Regions from separate parts of the Homo sapiens genome. Here regions 1, 2 and 4 are each linked to region 3. Evidence: fine-mapped expression QTL. A gene starts in region 3. Each other region holds a variant in brackets. All regions are shown on one strand. Distances are between the middles of the regions.

Evidence for each region. PIP is the estimated chance that this variant, and not a neighbour inherited with it, causes the effect. A credible set is the group of variants that fine-mapping cannot tell apart.
Region 1: its variant is the best candidate, but not a certain one, in a credible set for the expression of IL6 in whole blood (TOPMed, PIP 0.56).
Region 2: its variant is the best candidate, but not a certain one, in a credible set for the expression of IL6 in whole blood (INTERVAL, PIP 0.68).
Region 4: its variant is the best candidate, but not a certain one, in a credible set for the expression of IL6 in monocytes after LPS (Fairfax 2014, PIP 0.87).

Annotation. Positions count from the first base shown.
Region 1 is chr7:22,605,124-22,611,059 of GRCh38, forward strand. No RefSeq gene overlaps it. Among named protein-coding and RNA genes, the nearest start is that of STEAP1B-AS1, 45 kb to the left of the region's middle. The variant C/T (reference allele first, on the strand shown) is at 3,362.
Region 2 is chr7:22,642,491-22,648,426 of GRCh38, forward strand. No RefSeq gene overlaps it. Among named protein-coding and RNA genes, the nearest start is that of IL6, 82 kb to the right of the region's middle. The variant T/G (reference allele first, on the strand shown) is at 2,630.
Region 3 is chr7:22,723,798-22,729,624 of GRCh38, forward strand. It overlaps IL6 (interleukin 6), which reads left to right and starts at 3,403. Exons shown (of 5, transcript NM_000600.5): 1 at 3,403-3,484; 2 at 3,647-3,837; 3 at 4,896-5,009; 4 at 5,717-5,827. The coding sequence starts at 3,466. IL6-AS1 (IL6 antisense RNA 1) reads right to left here and starts at 3,823. Exons shown (of 2, transcript NR_131935.1): 1 at 3,771-3,823; 2 at 1,598-2,908. RefSeq lists a silencer at 2,818-2,867 and an enhancer at 2,853-4,052.
Region 4 is chr7:22,704,342-22,710,277 of GRCh38, forward strand. No RefSeq gene overlaps it. Among named protein-coding and RNA genes, the nearest start is that of IL6, 20 kb to the right of the region's middle. RefSeq lists an enhancer at 4,500-5,136. The variant T/A (reference allele first, on the strand shown) is at 2,604.

The DNA.
Region 1 (5,936 bases), 120 kb before region 3:
CAGCTCGCTGGTAACTTCAAAAGTTGCCACTAACAGCCGGGGAGAATTGCAAGTCATTATCAGAACACCTTTAAAAATTCTCAATAGAAATGTATGAATACAATGGCTGTGCCAGAAGCAAGAGATAGTCAGACATGAAGAAAGTATAAAGAAAAATAAAAACATGCTAAGTTATAAAACTGGTCTGGGTGCGAAGCCAGGCTGGCTGATGCTTTGCAATGGAGTAGCTCTGAAGCTGCCTCTTCCAGTGCCTGTGCCCTACTGGACAAAGATAGCCACAGCCTCAGTCCCTCTTTTGGTACAGATACCAAAAGGTCTTGATCAACTGGGACTTCACCGATACAGCCCTCAAGAGCCTGCAGTCCTTGCATATCTCAACTTTACCCCTTCAAGCATTCTGAAATTCACCTCAAGTTTCCATTCCTTGTGACATGTGCCATTATCAAGATTCATTAGTTCGTGACCGTGCTTGAAGAGCACACCACAAAATATGCCATGCACACGACAAAGCATGTCCTCTTTAAGAATGAGTGAGAAGTGTATGGAACAGAATCAAAACTGTCAGAGTGGCCTTGCTTTGAGCACTCCCTAAGTGAAATAATGTTCTCCAAACAGCAGTCTCCTGGAAACTGATAACCATGTTTAACATACTTAGTGGCATTAAAACTATCATCCATGTACTTATTTTTTGCCTTTTTAAAAACTGACATATAATATTTTACATATTTATGGGGTACATGTGATATTTTGTTACGTGGATCAAATCAGTTTTGGGGGTGTCCATCCCTTGAGTATTTATCATCTCTGTGTTGGGAACATTTCAAGTCATAGCTACTTTGAAATATCATGCATTTATTAAAAGTAATTCATGCACATTGTAAAACAAGATTAAACAAGGCAGAAATGGATAAAGTAAAAAAGTTCTCTTCTCTGACTCAGTCCCAATCCCTAGACTATTCTAGATTTTTAAAATGTAGATATTAATAGAAATACAAATAGATATTTTTTTTTAAATGAGATCATATGTGCATTCAATTTTGTAACCTGCCTGTCTCACTTGCTCGTATGTCGTGGACAACTTTCAGTGTTGTTTATGTAGATTTACCTCTTTCCATTTGATGTTTGCACAGTGTTCTACTGCATGGATAGTTTATTTAACCACACATTCATCTAACAGTAGTACCCAAAACATAGAAAGCTCTCAATAAATACTGGCTCTTATGTATAATCATAGAAATGTTTTTATATTTCCTTATTTATACTTCCTCACTCCTAAAATGTATTATACTTTTTTTAATGTACAAATTCCCAGACATGTATATTTTATAAAGGATAAACACTAGCTTTTACTCTAGCTTTTATTTATCAATTCTACACTTCAGTTTTCTTTCTGTCTTTATTACTATGTTCTATTTCTTTGAGTTAATTTTATCTTTTTGTTTGTTTTTTTGGAGACAGAGTCTTGCTCTGTCACCCAGGCTGGAGTGCAGTGGCACAATCTCGGCTCACTGCAACCTCAACCTCCCAGGTTCAAGTGATTCTCCTGCCTCAGCCTCCCGAGTAGCTGGGATTACAGGCATGTGCCATCATGCCCAACTAATTTTTGTATTTTTAGTTGAGACAGGATTTCACCATGTTGGCCCGGGTGGTCTTGAACTCCTGACTTCAAGTGATCTGCCTGCCTCAGCCTCCCAAAGTGCTGGGATTACAGGCATGAGCCACCACACCCAGCCTAATTTTGATCCTCTTCTTCTAGCTTCTAGAGTTGAATATGTAACTATGTTTATTTTATTCTCCTGTTTTCTAAAAAGGTATTTTAAAGTCATCTGAGGGAACTATTTTAACATGCCTTTGTCTGTACCCGCTTTTTAATATATAGTAGTCTTACCATCAGTTTACCTAAATAAATCTTAATTTCAGTTCTGAGTTCCTTTAGACCCAAGAATTATTTAGAATAATGTTTTTACACTTCCAAGTGTTATGAGTAGTTTTATTGTCATTGCTAATTTAAGTCTCATTGCAGTGTGTTGAGGCAACATGCCTCATATGTTTTCTATTTTTAAGAAATCACTGAGTTTTTCTTTGTCATAGAAAGGACAAGTTTCCTATCACATGTGTTTTCATAGTGCTGATGAGATGTAATGCAGGCTATTAATTGGAGTACGTGATGCAGTACATGCGCTGTTGTTTATAATGGGTTGCCATCTGGAAGAGGGCCTGTGCCTCTGGGAAACAGACCATTGCTTGCTTCGTGCTGGAATACACACCTACGGTTGCGTGGTATAGCCTGCTCAGCTAGAATCACAATCTCATGATTACTGTTCATGTTTGTAAACTATGACACAGGCAAATTGCAGGATCAGCATCAAAGATGTTAGCTGTGACTAAGAGATTCCTGCTGTGCAAGTTGAAAAACAAATGAGAACATATTATGTTCTTTTTCATTAGTTTTGATAAATCAATTTATTTTTTTCAACGTATTCTTTTTAACTAGCAATAATATTCTCAACTGATGACCCTGCCTTATACTCTCGAACTGTGCTGCCCAATACGGTAGCCACTAGATACACATGGCTATTTACATTTAAATTAATTTAAATTAAATAAAATCCAAACTTCAGTCCCTCAGTTGCACCAACCACTGACCATGTTCAATAGCCACATGTGGCTGTTGTACTGGACAATGCAGATATAAAGCATTTCTATTATTACAAAATTTTTTATTAGATATTCCAGCTCTAGGGGTGAAAATAGTGTGATTGTTTTTTGATGTGTCAACTTGACTAGGTTACAGTCCCCAGTTATTCAATGAAACACTAATCTAGGTGTTGCTGTGAAGGCGTGATTTAGTAGGTGTGATTAAAATGCATAATCAGTTGACCTGTAGTAAGGAAGATTATCCTAGATTATTCAGGTGGGCCAGGTCCCATCAGCTGGATGGAAGGCTTCAATAACAGAACAGAGGTGTTTCTGATGAAGAAGAAATTCTGCCTGTGGACATTTCATTTTATGCCTGAGAGTTCCAGCCCTCTTCCTCACAGCCTGCTCTTCCTCACAGCCTGCCCTGTGAATTTTGGAGGTTTCCCACAATCACACAAGCCAATTCCTTGCAATAAATCTCTCTCTATATATAGAATACAGATATTCAGTAGCAGATATATATTCAATTGCTTCTCCAGTTAAATTCTAATACAGAAACTCTCTCATCTATACAACCCCCAAACTACAAACAAACAGACCTGCCCCAAATTCATCTTCATCTGCTCTCCTGTCCACAGGACTCTGGATCCCATTTACTCTCACCTTCCCAAAGGTGTTGCTCCATTAGTTATCCTTTACCTCTTTTGTGTTTCCATCTTTT[C/T]CTTTTCTACTGGGTCTTTTCTATCATGTTCTAGTATGAGTCAAACACTTGAATGCACGCAGGTGGTTTATCTAGAAGTGATCCCAAGGTGGGAAAAAGAGGGGCAAAGTAAAGAATGAAGTGAAGCCAATACACAGATGCCTTTTTTTAAATCACCTTTACAGGCACCAATCCCATGGGACCTTCTGAGCAAACTTATGCAATGGGTCTTAAAAACTGTCCACCAAAGAGAGAAAAGAGGACAGCATTTATCTATCAGCTTTTATTGCCCTGTAGTCAAGGGTCATCCCTTGGTTGTCAACTCCCCTGGTTTCTGGGTTGCACAAGCATGAGTGCTGAAAAGGTTCCCTCACATGTTCCCAGCCACAAAACAAAGAAGCCCTAGAGTAGTATGTGAGAGGAAAGGGCTCAAAGCAAGGCATGGCCAAGTTAAGCCTGCAGGAGCTCAGAACTTAGCAAGGCAGTGGCTAGGCTAAGAGCAGAGCCAACAGGATTTAAAGTAACATACAAGAGGTGTCCAATACAGTCCCCTCCATATGCTAACTTGTTTCCTTATATTCCTTCACAGTCATACTTGCTGAAAGACTTGTGTACATATGCTACCTCCACTTTTCATCTCCCATTCACAACTAATCCAACTGTAAGCTGACTTCTCCCACATCTACTACATCTACTATCTCCCAAACTTCTTCTCAAGGTCACTAATGATCTCCATCTTGCCAATTCCATTGAACCTTCTCCAGTCTTAGTTTACTCAATATCTCAGCACCATTCAACACAGCAATCACTTTCTTCACAAAATACTCTTTTCTCTTGACTTTCATGGCACCACACTTCTAGGTTTTCTCCTGGACTCTCCTTCGTGCTGTCCTTTCCTGGCTCTTCCTTTTCTTTTCTTTTCTTTTCTTTCTTTTTTTTTAGAGATGGGGTCTCACTTTGCAAGGCTGCTCACTGCAGCCTTGACCTCTGGGGCTCAAGCAATCCTCTAGCCTCAGCCTCCCAAGTGGCTGGGACTACAGGAATGCACCACTGTGGTTGGCTAATTTTTTATTGTTTTGTAGAGATGGGGTCTTGCCATCTTGCCTAAGCTGGCCTCAAACTCCTTGGCTCAAGTAATCCTCCCACCTCAGTCTCCTAAATGTTGGGATCACAGGCATGAGCCATGGTGTCTTGCCCTGGCTTTTCCTTTTCTAACACTGGATCCCCTCAGGGCTCCACCCTGGGGCCCCTTCTCTTCCCACTATATACTCTCCTTCTTAGCTAACTCATGTATTCTAATGACTTTAAATATGTTTTCCATTCTTTATATACATCACTCCCACATTTATTTATATAACCTTGATTGCTCTTTCAGCTCTAGACCCAACTGCACACAACTATACAGGAATCTTAACATGTCCAAAATGGAACTCTATATCCTTTCTTGAAAACGTGGTCTTCCTCTAGCCTGTCCCATTCAGTAAATGATACCAACATTTACCTAATTGTTCAAGCCAGAAATCTAGGAGTTAGCCTTGATTCCACCACTCTCACCATCATAGCCAATATAACACAAAGTTCTGTTTATTCTACCACTGGAATATCTCTCAAATCCATCCAACTTCTCTCCATCTCCACTACCATCCACCTTGTCCAAGTCGCTTCTCTCCTGAACTCCTGGGAAACCTCCTAATGGTTTTTCCTGCATCCATTTTTGTTCCTATTCCAATCCTTTCTCCTTATGGCAAAGACATAATCTTATATTGTCAAATCATTTTATTCCCCAGCTCAAAACACTTCAACAGATACCAATTGTTTTTTGGTTAACATCTTAGATTAGTAACAAGACTTAGAGGGCGTCTCTGCATGTTTCTCCAGCACAATCTTGCATCCCAGCCCCGTTCCCTCATATGCGCACCTATATCAGCTTCCTTTCAGTTTCTCATGGACACTGGGCCCTTTTCCTTTGAAGTTTGTTGTGCTATTCCTGCTGAGTGACACATTCTTCTCCTGCTTATTCTGGGGAAATCCCATTCTTTAGGTCTCAGCTAACTGTCACTTCCTTAAAGAGGCCTACCATTGTCCACCTCTCTGTAATTTAGCAATTTGTAATTTTCCTTCAAGGAATTCATCATCATGCATAACTATGTATTTATTTATATAATTATCTGTTATTGCCTGTCCTGCTGCTCCATGAGAGGAGTAAAAACACCTATGCCATTCTTTACAGAATCCTTGGAGCTCAGCATAGTGCCTGGCAATCAAAAAATACTAACTAAATGATTGAAGAGAAGAAGGGAGGAAAGGAGGAAGGAATAAATTATTAAAATCTTATAAAGAAATTAAATTGTATTGTGAGTCTGAAATACTCAAACCTGAACTCCATCTTCCTCATTGAAATAATTGTGTAATGAACACAGGTCTGTGTTAATAAGACCCATCCTTGTTGCTATGTGGACATCTAACCTATTCCTTCTAGCTTCTGTGTCCACCACAAAGTCTTCCCACTTGATACTGAACACTCAGATTGCCTCAAACTCTCCCATCATCATAAGCAATAGCCAATGTTTAAAATGCTACTTTGGAAATGTCTGAA
Region 2 (5,936 bases), 81 kb before region 3:
TACATTGAGGTACTTTCCTTTTATACCCTTTTTGATGAGAATTTTTATCATGAAATGAGGGTGATTTTATAGAATACTTCTTCTGTATCTATTGAGATGATCATATAATTTTTATCCCTCATTCTTAAATGTGGTGTATCACATTTACTGATTTGCATAAGCTGAACCATCCTTGCATCCCAAGGATAAATCCACTTGTTTGGGGTGAATGATCTTTTTAATGTGCTGTTGAATCCCATTTGGTAGTATTTTATTTAGGATTTTTGCATCTATGTTTATCAGGAATACTGGTATATGGTTTTTTTTCTTTTAGTGTCCTTGTCTAGCTTTGATATCAGGGTAACACTGGCCTCATAAAAGGAATTTGGAAGCGTTCCCTCTTCTTCAGTATTTTAGAAAAGGTTGAGAAGAATTCATACTAATTCTGCTTTAAATGTTTGACAGAATTCACCCATGAATCCATTTGTTTCTAGGCTTTTCATTGTTGGGAGATTTTTGTTATTGGTTCAATCTCATTACCCATTATTGGTCTGCTCAGATTTTCTGTTTATTCATGATTTAGTATTGGTAGGATGTAGTTTCTAAGGATTTATTCATTTCTTTCAGGTTACCCAATTTGTTGGCTATTCATCCTATTCTCTTATGATTCTTTGCATATATGTGGGATCAGTTGTAATGTCTCCTCTTTTATTTCTGATTTCATTTGAGTATTCTCTCTTTTTTTCTCAGTCTAACTTTGTCTATTTTGGCTGCCAAACTAAAATTGTTTAGTTTGTCAATTTTGTCAATTTTTGTCAGTGTAGGTTTGTCGATCTTGTCTTTTAAAAAACTTTAGTTTTGTTGATCTTTCCTATTATTCTTCTAATCTCTATTTTATTTATTTTTTGCTCTGATCTTTGTTATTTCCTTCCTTCTGCTAACTGTGAGCTTAGTTTGCTCTTTTTCTAGTTCCTTGAGGTATAGAGTTAGGTTGTTTTCTGAGATCTTTCTCTTTCCTAAAATAGGTGTTTATTGTTACAAGCGTCTTCCTCAGAACTACTTTTGCAGCATCCAATAAGTTTAGGTATGTTGAGTTTCCATTTTAATTTGTCTCAATGTTTTTAATTTCCCTTTGGTTTCTCTTTTGACCCATTGATTGCTCAAAAGTATATTGTTTAATTTCCACATATTTGTGAGTTTTCCAGTTTTCCTATTATTTACTTCTAGTTTTATACCATCATGGTTGGAAAGGATACTTGATATGATTTCAATATTCTTGAATTTATTAAGACTTGTTTTATGACATAATATATGATCCACCCTGGAGAATGTTCCATGCACACTTGAGAAGAATGTATATTCTGCTACTGTTGGATGGAATGTGCTGTATATGTCTGTTGATTCCATTTGGTTTATAGGATTGTTTAAACCTAATGTTTCCGTATTGATTTTCCATCTGGACAATCTATCCATTGTTGACAGTTGGGTATTAAAGTCCTCTACTATTATTGTACTATTTCTCCTTACCAGTTCTGTTAATATTTGATTTATACCAATATTACCAGTTAATGTTGTACTAATGACAGTGTATTGGTATTATCAGTTTATGTTAATATTATCAGTTCTGTTAATGTTTGTTTTATATATTTAGTTGCTCCAATGTTGGGTGAATAAATCTTTACTATTGCTATATCTTCTTGATGAAGTGATTCTTTTATCATTAAACAATTATCTTCTTTCTTTTATTGTAACAGTTTTTTACTTAAAGTCTATTTTTTCTGTTATAAGTATAACCACTCCTGCTCTCTTCTGGTTACCATTTTCACGAAATATCTCTTTCCACCCTCTGCTTTCAGCCTATGTGTATCCTCGAAGCTAAAGTGAATCTCTCATAGGAAGCATATAATTGTCTTCTTTTTAATTCATTCAACCATTCTATTTTTTAATGGGAGAATTTAATCCATTTAAAGTCACTTTTGATAGTAAAGACTTATTGTTTTATTTTATTTTATTTTTTAAAGACAGAGTCTTGCTCTGTCACTGAGGCTGAAGTGCAGTGGCACAATCACACTATCATAGCTCACTGTAACCTTGAACTCCTGAAACTCCTGGGCTCAAGTGATCCTCCCACCTCAGCCTCCAGAGTAGCAAGGGCTACAGGTGTGTACTCCCATGCCTAGCTAATTCTTTAAAATTTTTTGTAGAGACAGAGTCTTGCTATGTTGCTCAGGGTAGTCTCGAACTCCTGGCCTCAAGTGATCCTCCTGCCTCAGCCATCCAAAGTGCTGGGATTATAGACATGAGCCACTGTGCCAGCCTGCCATTTTGTTAATTGTTTCTGACTATGCAGTAGTTTTCTTGTACGTTTTGTCCTCTCTTGCAGTCTTCCTTTGTGGGGTTTTTTTTTTTTTTTTTTTTTTTTTTTTTTTTTTTTTTTTTTTTGCTGTGGTATGTTTGATTCTGTTCTCTTCATCATTTTGTATACACTATAGATTTTTGCTTCATGGTTACCATGAGGCATACATAAAACATCTTATAGCAGTCTGTTTTAAGCTGATAACAGCTTCACTTCAGTTGCATACAAATACTATACTTTTGCCTCTCTCTGACCCCGCATTTTATGGGTTTTTTTTAGTCACAATTTACATCT[T/G]TTATATTATGTATCCACTAATGAAATAGTGTAGTTATACTTTTAGTACTTTTATCTTTTAACCTTTATAGAGTTAAAAGTGACTTACATACCATTACATATGAGAATATCATGAATTTGCTATATTTATCAAACATAAAATATCAAATATTATACTATAATACTATAAATACTGTAAATATTATAGTATAATATTATACTATAATATTTACCTTTACATGCAAATTTTATGCTTTCATATATTTTCATCTTAGTAACTGTGTCCTTTTATTGCAGCTTGAAGAACTCCATTTAGCATTTCTTGTAAGACAGGTCTAGTGGTGATAAACTCCCTCAGCTTTTGTTTATCTGGGAAAGTCTTTATCTCTCCTTCATTTCTGAAGGTCAGCTTTTCTGGAGAAAGTATTGTTGATTGACAGTTTTTTCTTTCAGCCTTTTGAATATATTATCCCATTCTTTCTTAGTCTGTAAAGTTTCTGCTGAGAAATCTGCTGACAGCCTTATGAAGATTCTCTTGTGTCTGATATGTCACTTTTGTCTTGCTGCTTTTGAATTTCTTTTTTTTTTTTTGACTTCTGACAATTTGATTATATATATATATGTCTCTGTCATGACTTACTTGGGTTGAGAATGGGAACTTTTGAGCTTCATTAATCTGAATGTCTGTATCTCCCAAGGTTTAATAAGTTTTCAGCCTTATTTCTTAAATAAGCTTTCTTCCCTTTTCTCTCTCTTCTATTTCTGAGGCCCCTGTAATGCAAATATTGTGGCACTTAATGGTGTCTTATAAGTCCCATAGCTTTTTTTTTTTTTTTTACTTTTTCTTTCTTTTTTCTCCACCAACTAGATAATTTCAAAAGGCTTGTCTTTAAGTTCACAGATTCTTTCTTCAGCTTGATTGACTTTGCTGTTGAAGTCCTCTACTGCATTTTTCATTTCATTCATTGTATTCTTTAGCTCCAAGATTTCTTTTTGGTTCTTTTCATGATTTCTATCTCTTTGTTGAATTTCTAGTTTTGTTCACACATTATGTTCCTGATTTTGTGGAGTTATCTACCTGTGTTCTCTTGTATCCCACTGACCTTTTTTAAAATAATTATTTTGAATTCATTTTCAAGCAATTCATAGACCTCCATTTATTTGGGGTCAGTTATAAGAAAATTATTGTGCTCCTTTGGTAGTGTCATGTTTCCTTGACTTTTTGTATTTCCTGTGGCTTTGCATTGATATCTGCACACTTGAGGGAGCAGTCACCTATTCCAGACATTACAGATTAGCCTCAGTGGGGGAAATACTTTCACCTCCAGGAAGGTGTGGGAACGCCAGTTGGGTGGGGTACAGCAGCTCTGGTTTCAGAGAGTGTGCTGTGGTGTACTCTTCATGCAGCTCTATCATTGAGGTCAGCACTGGGGACAACTCTAGGAGTCCTAGACAGCCAAGGCTACAGATATCTGAAGTTATGGCAGCAGCAGCAAAGGCTGTTGGGATCCTTGGCGGCAAAGACTTCTGGGATCTCCCTGTTAGCTCTTTTTCCTCTAGGGAAAGAAGTCCTAACCGAGGGGATCCTTCTTGGTGCCAGGTCTGGTATGGCCTGCAGGCAGTTGCAGCAGCACTGGGTTCTGGGGTATGAGTATTCAGAGCAGCAGCAGAGATGGGCCCCAGAAAACTCTGGGGTGTTCCCCAGTGGCATGGGCTCTGGTGAGAGGATGAAGTGCAGTGGTGGCTTGGGCCACAGAAGGCAGGGCACAGCAGCAGCATGGCCCCAGGCCAACATTTCCAAAAGTTTTAACCCATTCCAGCATCAACTTTAAGTTCCAAATCTAATCTAAACATCACCAACTCAAAAAGTTACAAATTGCATCATCTAAATCAGGTGTTGCTGAAATCTGTATGGTCTATCCTGGGCAAAATTCCTCTCCATCTCTGGACCTATGAAACTAGGAAACAAGTTATCTAAATACAAGTATCTAAAATACAAAGGTGGGCTAGGCATAGGATAGACATTTCCATTCCAAAAAATATTAAATGGAAGGAATAAAGAGGTCACCAATCCCAAAGGAGTCAAAACTGAGCAGGGCAAATTTCATTAGGTCTCAAGCCTTGAGAATAATCCTCTGTCACTCAACACACCCTTGGGGCCCATGGCCGTTCTGCCTTTTGGGTTTGTGGTAGCCCTATCCTCTGAGTCCACAGTGGTCTATCCTTTGGACCTACAGTGGCCTCAGGATCATTCTTTCATTTTCTTAAATGGTAGCAAATATTTACAGCTGACTAGCTCTACTGGCCCACTTTCTGTCTGTAGAAGTTTGGAAGTCTGATAGTGTTCTCACATTTCATCCTGCTTCTATCCTTTTAAAAGTTCAAGCTGGCAGTCTGCAGATACAACATTCTCAAAACCCTTGTGGTTCTCCTGTGGGGGTCCAGGGATTCATGCCATTAGACAAAAGGGTTCTCCACAGATTTCCCATGAGTAACTCATTTCTATTTTTGGCTTCTGGTGAGGTGGTTGAGTGTATCCATGAGTCATGCTTTATCTCTTCAGCAAAAGGTTGTCCAGCCACATCCTTGATCTTCTCTCTAGAACACGCTTCCTAACAGAATTTCCTAACTTTAGCATCCTTTGCAATCTGGGTAGACTGATAACTTCCAAAATAAAAGTGCTTGTTCATTTTTATCTAACAGTTCCTTTCTTATCTTATCTTTTTGCTTGTATTTATTTGACTATAGGCAGCAAGGAAAAACCAGCCTGCATCTTTAATACTTTTCTCGGAAGTCTGCTTTTATTTCTACTCAGAAATATTCAAGCTATTGCTTACAAATTAGGCTTTCCATACAACAAAGAAAACATGATTCAGCCAACTTTTCTGCCCGTATATAAAAGATGACCTTTCCTTCAGCTTTCAGTAACACATTCTTCATTTCCTTCTAGCAACATTCTGTTTACAGCAATATTTGTATTCTCTTAGACAATAGAAGCTTTGTCTACCATGTACCCTACTTCCTTCTGAGCCCTTACCAGAATCCAGAAGTTTTCTATCCTCTGCCTCAAAATTCTTCCAGCTTTGGGTAATTGCACATTACCTAATTCCACAGTCACTTCCACAGTTTTAGGTATTTGTTACAGTAGCACCTCATTTCTAGTCACCAAACTATGTATTCATTTCCTAGGGCTACCTTAATAAAGTGCCACAAAATTGGTGTCTTAAAAAATAGAAATTCATTCTCTCACAGTTCTGGAGGCCAGAAATCTGAAATAAAATTTGCATTCCCTCTGAAGGCCCTATGGGAGAATTATTCCTTATCTCTT
Region 3 (5,827 bases):
CACACTGGTGGCATAGGAAGCCAAGTTGCTGCTTCCTCCCTGTGCACTCCCATTTGTCTGGCCTCTCTTGATCTCAGCTGGCGCTCACTTCACATCAGCTATGATGCAATCCAGCAACTAAAGTATTAGTTAATAAATGCTGACAGCACAGCCTTTTCTGGTCACGTATTCATACTAAAATACGGGGGAGAGTTGGGGGGAGAGGGGGATATATGGGAAATCTCTGTACCTTCCTCTCCATTTTGCTATGACCTAAAGCTGCCCTTTAAAAAATACAAGGGGCTGGGCACAGTGGTTCACGCCTGTAAACCCAGCACTTTGGGAGGCCGAGGCGCGTGGATCACCTGAGGTCAGGAGTTCAAGACCCGCCTGGCCAACATGGCAAAACCCCGTTTCTACTAAAAATACAAAAAGTAGCTGGGCGTGGTCGCATGCATCTGTAGTCCCAGCTACTCAGGAGGCTGAGGCAAGAGAATTGCTTGAACCTGGGAGGCGGCGGTTGAAGTGAGCCAAGATCATGCCATTGCCCTCCAGCCTGGGCAACAGAGCAAGACTCCTTCTCAAGAGAAAAAACAAAACAAAACAAGAAAAAACAAAGAATGAGCTCTCCACGCGAAAAATCCATTGAGATGCAAAGGAAGGAAGCTATCATTGTGGAATTGCACATGTCAGTTACATTAACGTTTTTGGAGCAAGGTAGAGCTCATCTCTCCCACAAGCAAATTCCAGCCCAAAGCATTGATACTAATAAAGTGCCATGCTGCGATGTGCAGGGGGCAGACAGTGTCTCCAAGCTCCCTACACACATGCCTTCCCACAGTTTGCCCTTTCTTGACCCCAGAAGCATCAGGCCCCTTCACCCTCGAGGGCCACTATCAGGAGTTTGAATTAATGGCAATCACCATGCACAGGGAAGGCTGTGGAATTCTGACATAAAAACACTTAGTGGAGGGCTTGGAAAAAGTCTAGTAGGAGCAAGACGCAAGCTGGACTAATTATCTAAAACAAGAGACCTGGTTTGGGGATCTTAATGTTCTCAAAAAAGAAAATTATTATTATTTTTCATTTTGCACTTTGTGCCATAAAACATTTTCAACAAAACATAGAATCTCATTTCTTTTGAGGGAAAATGATTGGGAGACCAGCTCATTGCTGGCACAGAGGCCTGGTTCATTCATAATTCCTTCATAGGCAAGACACCAGGTGAACCGATATAGCCGAGCTGGAAGAGCTCTCCAAGGCAGAGACTCTGAGCCAAGGAATGTTCAAAGAGCTAGCATGTATTGTGGGATTACTATGCGCCAGGAATTTTTTACACTGCATCACGTTCCATCTTCACAACAGCCCTAGAAAGGAAGAACTATTATTACCCCCGTTTTATAGGTGAATAAACAAGGGCACAGGTCCTTGATGTAACAGCCAGGATCAAACAGCTGGGAAGACGAGAAAACCTTTCCCAGGCTAGGATAACAGAGGATTTGGTTGAAAATACAGGCAATTAGGTGCTACCTCTGGGAAAAGGGGCCAGGAGAGGAAGGAGACACTTTTCCCTGCATGCCCTGATGTCCTATTTGAACATTTTATCATGAACACGAACTTCCTATTTAAAAAACACTTTTTATTGAAAAGATAAATCTGTGTGTTGTATTGTGTCACTCAGTTCAAGTACTTGAAATTTATTGAATTGTATTTTCTAAAAAATAGATAGTTGAGTAAAAGCAAGCTCACATTACATAGACGGATCACAGTGCACGGCTGCGGAGCTGGGAGCAGTGGCTTCGTTTCATGCAGGAAAGAGAACTTGGTTCAGGAGTGTCTACGTTGCTTAAGACAGGAGAGCACTAAAAATGAAACCATCCAGCCATCCTCCCCCATTTTCATTTTCACACCAAAGAATCCCACCGCGGCAGAGGACCACCGTCTCTGTTTAGACAATCGGTGAAGAATGGATGACCTCACTTTCCCCAACAGGCGGGTCCTGAAATGTTATGCACGAAACAAAACTTGAGTAAATGCCCAACAGAGGTCACTGTTTTATCGATCTTGAAGAGATCTCTTCTTAGCAAAGCAAAGAAACCGATTGTGAAGGTAACACCATGTTTGGTAAATAAGTGTTTTGGTGTTGTGCAAGGGTCTGGTTTCAGCCTGAAGCCATCTCAGAGCTGTCTGGGTCTCTGGAGACTGGAGGGACAACCTAGTCTAGAGCCCATTTGCATGAGACCAAGGATCCTCCTGCAAGAGACACCATCCTGAGGGAAGAGGGCTTCTGAACCAGCTTGACCCAATAAGAAATTCTTGGGTGCCGACGCGGAAGCAGATTCAGAGCCTAGAGCCGTGCCTGCGTCCGTAGTTTCCTTCTAGCTTCTTTTGATTTCAAATCAAGACTTACAGGGAGAGGGAGCGATAAACACAAACTCTGCAAGATGCCACAAGGTCCTCCTTTGACATCCCCAACAAAGAGGTGAGTAGTATTCTCCCCCTTTCTGCCCTGAACCAAGTGGGCTTCAGTAATTTCAGGGCTCCAGGAGACCTGGGGCCCATGCAGGTGCCCCAGTGAAACAGTGGTGAAGAGACTCAGTGGCAATGGGGAGAGCACTGGCAGCACAAGGCAAACCTCTGGCACAGAGAGCAAAGTCCTCACTGGGAGGATTCCCAAGGGGTCACTTGGGAGAGGGCAGGGCAGCAGCCAACCTCCTCTAAGTGGGCTGAAGCAGGTGAAGAAAGTGGCAGAAGCCACGCGGTGGCAAAAAGGAGTCACACACTCCACCTGGAGACGCCTTGAAGTAACTGCACGAAATTTGAGGATGGCCAGGCAGTTCTACAACAGCCGCTCACAGGGAGAGCCAGAACACAGAAGAACTCAGATGACTGGTAGTATTACCTTCTTCATAATCCCAGGCTTGGGGGGCTGCGATGGAGTCAGAGGAAACTCAGTTCAGAACATCTTTGGTTTTTACAAATACAAATTAACTGGAACGCTAAATTCTAGCCTGTTAATCTGGTCACTGAAAAAAAATTTTTTTTTTTTCAAAAAACATAGCTTTAGCTTATTTTTTTTCTCTTTGTAAAACTTCGTGCATGACTTCAGCTTTACTCTTTGTCAAGACATGCCAAAGTGCTGAGTCACTAATAAAAGAAAAAAAGAAAGTAAAGGAAGAGTGGTTCTGCTTCTTAGCGCTAGCCTCAATGACGACCTAAGCTGCACTTTTCCCCCTAGTTGTGTCTTGCCATGCTAAAGGACGTCACATTGCACAATCTTAATAAGGTTTCCAATCAGCCCCACCCGCTCTGGCCCCACCCTCACCCTCCAACAAAGATTTATCAAATGTGGGATTTTCCCATGAGTCTCAATATTAGAGTCTCAACCCCCAATAAATATAGGACTGGAGATGTCTGAGGCTCATTCTGCCCTCGAGCCCACCGGGAACGAAAGAGAAGCTCTATCTCCCCTCCAGGAGCCCAGCTATGAACTCCTTCTCCACAAGTAAGTGCAGGAAATCCTTAGCCCTGGAACTGCCAGCGGCGGTCGAGCCCTGTGTGAGGGAGGGGTGTGTGGCCCAGGGAGGGCTGGCGGGCGGCCAGCAGCAGAGGCAGGCTCCCAGCTGTGCTGTCAGCTCACCCCTGCGCTCGCTCCCCTCCGGCACAGGCGCCTTCGGTCCAGTTGCCTTCTCCCTGGGGCTGCTCCTGGTGTTGCCTGCTGCCTTCCCTGCCCCAGTACCCCCAGGAGAAGATTCCAAAGATGTAGCCGCCCCACACAGACAGCCACTCACCTCTTCAGAACGAATTGACAAACAAATTCGGTACATCCTCGACGGCATCTCAGCCCTGAGAAAGGAGGTGGGTAGGCTTGGCGATGGGGTTGAAGGGCCCGGTGCGCATGCGTTCCCCTTGCCCCTGCGTGTGGCCGGGGGCTGCCTGCATTAGGAGGTCTTTGCTGGGTTCTAGAGCACTGTAGATTTGAGGCCAACGGGGCCGACTAGACTGACTTCTGTATTTATCCTTTGCTGGTGTCAGGAAGTTCCTTTCCTTTCTGGAAAATGCAGAATGGGTCTGAAATCCATGCCCACCTTTGGCATGAGCTGAGGGTTATTGCTTCTCAGGGCTTCCTTTTCCCTTTCCAAAAAATTAGGTCTGTGAAGCTCCTTTTTGTCCCCCGGGCTTTGGAAGGACTAGAAAAGTGCCACCTGAAAGGCATGTTCAGCTTCTCAGAGCAGTTGCAGTACTTTTTGGTTATGTAAACTCAATGGCTAGGATTCCTCAAAGCCATTCCAGCTAAGATTCATACCTCAGAGCCCACCAAAGTGGCAAATCATAAATAGGTTAAAGCATCTCCCCACTTTCAATGCAAGGTATTTTGGTCCTGTTTGGTAGAAAGAAAAGAACACAGGAGGGGAGATTGGGAGCCCACACTCGAATTCTGGTTCTGCCAAACCAGCCTTGTGATCTTGGGTAAATTCCCTACCACCTCTGGACTCCATCAGTAAAATTGGGCGTGGACTAGGTGATCTCATAGATCCTTCCTGCTGGAACATTCTATGGCTTGAATTATATTCTCCTAATTATTGTCAAAATTGCTGTTATTAAGTATCTACTGTGTGCCAGGCACTTTAAATAAATATTGTGTCTAATCTTCAAAACAAATTTGCAAGGAAGGTTTTTGGAGATAAGGAAACTGAGACTCAGGATTAAGTAACACACCTAAAGTCACAGGTGAGCTTGGAACTGAACCCAAGTGTGCCCCCACTCCACTGGAATTTGCTTGCCAGGATGCCAATGAGTTGTAGCTTCATTTTTCTTAGAGACTTTCCTGGCTGTGGTTGAACAATGAAAAGGCCCTCTAGTGGTGTTTGTTTTAGGGACACTTAGGTGATAACAATTCTGGTATTCTTTCCCAGACATGTAACAAGAGTAACATGTGTGAAAGCAGCAAAGAGGCACTGGCAGAAAACAACCTGAACCTTCCAAAGATGGCTGAAAAAGATGGATGCTTCCAATCTGGATTCAATGAGGTACCAACTTGTCGCACTCACTTTTCACTATTCCTTAGGCAAAACTTCTCCCTCTTGCATGCAGTGCCTGTATACATATAGATCCAGGCAGCAACAAAAAGTGGGTAAATGTAAAGAATGTTATGTAAATTTCATGAGGAGGCCAACTTCAAGCTTTTTTAAAGGCAGTTTATTCTTGGACAGGTATGGCCAGAGATGGTGCCACTGTGGTGAGATTTTAACAACTGTCAAATGTTTAAAACTCCCACAGGTTTAATTAGTTCATCCTGGGAAAGGTACTCTCAGGGCCTTTTCCCTCTCTGGCTGCCCCTGGCAGGGTCCAGGTCTGCCCTCCCTCCCTGCCCAGCTCATTCTCCACAGTGAGATAACCTGCACTGTCTTCTGATTATTTTATAAAAGGAGGTTCCAGCCCAGCATTAACAAGGGCAAGAGTGCAGGAAGAACATCAAGGGGGACAATCAGAGAAGGATCCCCATTGCCACATTCTAGCATCTGTTGGGCTTTGGATAAAACTAATTACATGGGGCCTCTGATTGTCCAGTTATTTAAAATGGTGCTGTCCAATGTCCCAAAACATGCTGCCTAAGAGGTACTTGAAGTTCTCTAGAGGAGCAGAGGGAAAAGATGTCGAACTGTGGCAATTTTAACTTTTCAAATTGATTCTATCTCCTGGCGATAACCAATTTTCCCACCATCTTTCCTCTTAGGAGACTTGCCTGGTGAAAATCATCACTGGTCTTTTGGAGTTTGAGGTATACCTAGAGTACCTCCAGAACAGATTTGAGAGTAGTGAGGAACAAGCCAGAGCTGTGCAGATG
Region 4 (5,936 bases), 19 kb before region 3:
TTTCCACGCCCTGACCCCTTATCTCCACACCCTGACCCCTTATCTCTGTGCCCCAACCCTTTATTTCCACACCCCGACCCCTTTCCCACTTTTCTGGAGGGTAAGAACCCCCGAACCCCTTCCCTCCGTGTCTCTACTCTCTCTTTTCTCTAGGCTTGCCTCCTTCACTATGGGCAAACTTCCACCCTCCATTCCCCCTTCTTCTCCCTTAGCCTGTGTTCTTAAAAACCTAAAACCTCTTCAACTCACACCTGACCTAAAACCTAAAGGCCTTATTTTCTTCTACAATGCCGCTTGACCCCAATACAAACTCGATAGTGGTTCCAAACAGCCAGAAAACAGCACTTTCATTTTTTCCATCTTACAAGATCTAAATAATTCTTGTCATAAAATGGGCAAGTGGTCTGAGGTGCCTGACGTCCAGGCATTCTTTTACACATCAGTCCTCCCTAGTCTGTGTTCCCAATGCAACTCGTCCCAAATCTTCCCTCTTTCCTTCCCGCCTGTCCCCTCAGTCCCAACCCCAAGTGTCGCCGAGTCTTTCTAATCTTCCTTTTCTACAGACCCATCTGACCTCTCTCCTCCATGCCAGGCCCAGCTAGGTCCCAATTCTTCCTCAGCCTCTGCTCCTCCACCCTATAATCCTTTTATCACCTCCCCTCCTCACACCCAGTCTGGCTTACAGTTTCGTTCCATGACTAGCCCTCCCCCACCTGCCCAGCAATTTCCTCTTAAAAAGTAGCTGGAGCTAAAGGCATAGTCAAGGTTAATGCTCCTTTTCTTTATCCCAAATAAGAGAGCATTTAGGCTCTTTTTCATGAAATATGAAAAACCCAGCCCAGTTCATGGCTCATTTGGCAGCAACCCTGAGACACTTTACAGCCCTAGACCCTAAAAGGTCAAAAGGCCGTCTTATTCTCAACACACATTTTATTACCCAATCCACTCCCGACTTTAAATAAATCTCCAAAAATTAAATTCCGGCCCTCAAACCCCACAACAGGACTTAATTAACCTCACCTTCAAGGTGTACAAAAATAGAAAAAAGTTGCAATTCCTTGCCTCCACTGTGAGACAAACCCCAGCCACATCTCCAGCACACAAGAACTTCCAAATACCTGAACCACAGCAGCCAGGCGTTCCTCCAGAACCTCCTCCCCCAGGAGCTTGCTACAAGTGCTGGAAATCTGGCCACTGCGCCAAGGAATGCCCACAGCCCAGGATTCCTCCTAAGCCGTGTCCCATCTGTGCGGGACCCCCAAGAAAATCGGACTGTTCAACTCACCTGGCAGCCACTTCCAGAGCCCCTGGAACTCTGGCCCAAGGCTCTCTGACTGACTCCTTCCCAGATCTTCTCGGCTTAGCAGCTGAAGACTGACACTGCCCAATCACCTCAGAAGCCTACAGGACCATCACAGACACTCTAGGTAACTCTCACAGTGGAGGGTAAGTCCGTCCCCTTCTTAATCAATACGGAGGCTACCCACTCCACATTACCTTCTTTTCAAGGGCCTGTTTCCCTTGCCTCCATAACTGTTGTGGGTATTGATGGCCAAGCTTCAAAACCCCTGAAAACTCCCCCACTCTAGTGCCAACTTGGACAACACTCTTTTATGCATTCTTTTTTAGTTATTCCCACCTGCCCAGTTCCCTTATTAGGCCGAGATATTTTAAGCAAATTATCTGCTTCCCTGACTATTCCTGGACTACAGCCACATCTCATTGCCGCCCTTATCCCCAACCCAAAGCCTCCTTTGCGTCTTCCTCTCATATCCCCCAACCTTAACCCACAAGTATAGGACATCTCTACTCCTTCCCTGGCAACGGATCACATGCCCATTACCATCCCATTAAAACCTAATTACCCTTACCCCGCTCAACGCCAATATCCCATCCCACAGCACGCTTTAAAAGGATTAAAGCCTGTTATCACTCACCTGCTACAGCATAGGCTTCTAAAACCTATAAACTCTCCTTACAATTCCCCCATTTTACCTGTCCAAAAACCGGACAAGTCTTACAGATTAGTTCAGGATCTGTGCCTTATCAACCAAATTGTTTTGCCTATCCACCCTGTGGTGCCCAACCCGTACACTCTTTTGTCCTCAATACCTTCCTCCACAACTCACTATTCCATTCTTGATCTTAAAAATGCTTTTTTCACTATCCCCCTGCACCCCTCGTCCCAGCCTCTCTTTGCTTTCACCTGGACTGACGCTGACACCCATCAGTCCCAGCAGCTTACCTGGGCTGTGTTGCCGCAAGGTTTCAGGGACAGCCCTCATTACTTCAGCCAAGCTCTTTCTCATGATTTACTTTCTTTCCACCCCTCCGCTTCTCACCTTATTCAATATATTGAGGATCTTCTTCTTTGTAGCCCCTCCTTTGAATCTTCTCAACAAGACACACTTCTGCTCCTTCAGCATTTATTCTCCAAAGGATATCAGGTATCCCCCTCCAAAGCTCAAATTTATTGTCCATCCATTACCTACCTTGGCATAATTCTTCATAAAAACACACGTGCTCTCCCTGCCGATCATGTCCAACTGATCTCTCAAACCCTAACCCCTTCTACAAAACAACAACTCCTTTCCTTCCTGGGC[T/A]TGGTTGGATACTTTCGCCTCTGGATACCTGGTTTTGCCATCCTAACAAAACCATTATATAAACTCACAAAAGGAAACCTAGCTGACCCCATAGATCCTAAATCCTTTCCCCACTCCTCTTTCCATTCCTTGAAGACAGCTTTAGAGACTGCCCCCACCCTAGCTCTCCCTGACTCATCCCAACCCTTTTCATTACACACAGCCGAAGTGCAGGGCTGTGCAGTCGGAATTCTTACACAAGGACCGGGATCATGTCCTGTAGCCTTTTTGTCCAAACAACTTGACCTTACTGTTTTAGGCTGGTCATCATGTCTCTGTGCAGTGGCTACTGCTGCCCTAATACTTTAGAGGCCCTTAAAATCACAAACTATGCTCAACTCACTCTCTACAGTTCTCATAACTTCCAAAATCTATTTTCCTCCTCACACCTGACACATATACTTTCTGCTCCCCGGCTCCTTCAGCTGGACTCACTCTTTGTTAAGTCTCCCACAATTACCCTTGTTCCTGGCCCAGACTTCAATCCGGCCTCCCACATTATTCCTGATACCACACCTGACCACCATGACTGTACCTCTCTTATCCACCAGACATTCAACCCCATTTCCCCATATTTCCTTCTTTCCTGTTCCTCACCCTGATCACACTTGATTTATTGATGGCAGTTCCACCAGGCCTAATCGCCACACACCAGCAAAGGCAGGCTATGCTACAGCACAAGCCACTAGCCCACCCCTTAGAACCTCTCATTTCCTTTCCATCGTAAAAATCTACCCTCAAGGAAATAACTTCTCAGTGTTCCATCTGCTATTCTACTACTCCTCAAGGATTATTCAGGCCCCCTCCCTTCCCTACACATCAAGCTGGAGGATTTGCCCCCACCCTGGACTGGCAAATTGACTTTACTCAACATGCCCAAGTCAGAAAACTAAAATACCTCTTAGTCTAGGTAGACACTTTCACTGGATAGGTAGAGACCTTTCCTACAGGGTCTGAGAAGGCCACTGCAGTCATTTCTTCCCTTCTGTCAGACATAATTTCTCAGTTTAGCCTTCCCACCTCTATACAGTCTGATAACAGACTAGCCTTTATTAGTCAAATCAGCCAAGGAGTTTTTCAGGCTCTTAGTATTCAGTGAAACCTTTATATCCCTTACGGTTGGTCCTCAGTCTTCAGGAAAAGTAGAACGGACTAAAGGTCTTTTAAAAACACACCTCACCAAGCTCAGCCACCAACTTAAAAAGGAGTGGACAATAATTTTACCACTTTCCCTTCTCAGAATTCAGGCCTGTCCTCAGAATGCTACAGGGTACAGCCCATTTGAGCTCCTGTACGGACGCTCCTTTTTATTAGGCCCCAGTCTCATCCCAGACACCAGACCAACTTAGACTGTGCCCCAAAAAACTTGTCATCCCTACTATTTTCTGTCTAGTCATACTCCTATTCACCGTTCTCAACTACTCATACATGCCCTGCTCTTGTTTACACTGCCGGTTTATACTGTTTCTCCAAGTCATCACAGCTGATATCTCCTGATGCTATCCCCAAACTGCCACTCTTAACTCTTAAAGTAAATAAATAATCTTTGCTGGCAGGACTATGCTGAATCTCCTTAGGCACTCTCTAGTCAAATGTCCTAGGTCCTCCCAATTCTTAGACCTTTAATACCTGTTTTTCTCCTTCTCTTATTCCATTTAGTTTTTCAATTCATACAAAACTGTATCCAGGCCATCACCAATAATTCTAAATGACAAATGTTTCTTCTAACAACCCCACAATATCACCCCTTACCACAAGATCTGCCTTCAGCTTAATCTCTCCCACTGTAGGTTCCCACACCGCCCCAATCCCGCTCGAAGCAGCCCATTATCTCTCCATACTACCCCCAAAAATTTTCGCCGCCCTAACACTTTATCACTATTTCGTCTTATTTTTCTTATTAATATAAGAAGACAGGAATGTCAGGCCTCTGAGCCCAAGCTAAGCCGTCATATCCCCTGTGACCTGAACGTACACATCCAGATGGCCGGTTCCTGCCTTAACTGATGACATTCCACCACAAAAGAAGTGAAAATGGCCTGTTCCTGCCTTAACTGATGACATTATCTTGTGAAATTCCTTCTCCTGGCTCATCCTGGCTCAAAAGCTCCCCTACTGAGCACCTCGTGACCCCCACTCCTGCCCGACAGAGAACAACCCCTTTGACTGTAATTTTCCTTTACCTACCCAGATCCTATAAAATGGCCCCACCCCCATCTCCCTTTGCTGACTCTCTTTTCAGACTCAGCCTGCCTGCACCCACGTGAAATAAACAGCCTTGTTGCTCACACAAAGCCTGTTTAGTGGTCTCTTCACACGGACGCGCATGAAAGATACTGCCCCTCATAGTGCCCGGCCATTGCATCAGGAGGAGAAATCCTCTGAGGTGTGATAAGGCAGGAAAAGGGCCTGGATTTAGGGGCTGAGGACACTTTAAGCTACCTGGTGGCATGGGAGTGTGCACAAGTTCCTTTGTTCCCTGGGGAGAGGCACAAAAGAGGTCTGGTAGTGCTCGCTGATCAGTTTACAAAGGAGGTCTCCAGGCAAAGGGCATGGGGGAGTGAGATTGACCCAACCTTGCTGAGAGCTCCCAGGCCTGCCCCCACCCGGGGAATCACAGGTGGACCCAGTCAGAGCAGGCTGACAGAGTACAGGCCTCAAGGCCACTCACTGAAGAAAGTAAGAGCAGATGCCACCAGGCTGACCACAGGACAGTGTGATCTGCGTTCCACCACAGGTATCAGTAAGTGTCCAGATAACTTCCCCAAAGTGCCAGCTTTGGAAAGAGAAGGTGGAGGAGCGGAGCGCTGAAAGATGCAGCATTTCCTCGAAAGGAGCTGTGTCGAAGCGAAAGGAGACAGTAAAGCAGAAGGGACTGGGCTCCCATTAGCGAGCAAGGCTGGACTTCCCTGCTGCCCAAAAGGAAGGACTTATAAGAAGAAAGATAACCTATCAGTTAGAGCAAAACAGAGGTGCTGCCCTTTGTGTATCCAAGTGTAGGGAGTGAATTAATCCGTGACCCACTATGCAAAAACATATTACATAAAACTCCCAGAGCTCTTAGGAGAGGTTGCCTCTGAGAAGCGGAACTGGGGTCAGTGGATGTGCAGGTGGTAAACCTTATTGCTTTTGTAATAGAAAATGTGAAAATGTTTTAAATAGACCTCACCAGAAGCACTCGTAATACAAAATTAAATAGTCTCACTTCTCATTATACCCTATTTCTACATAAAATTCTAAATGATACTTTGCTGGAAACCAATGATTTCTTCTTTTTTATTTATTATTGATGAA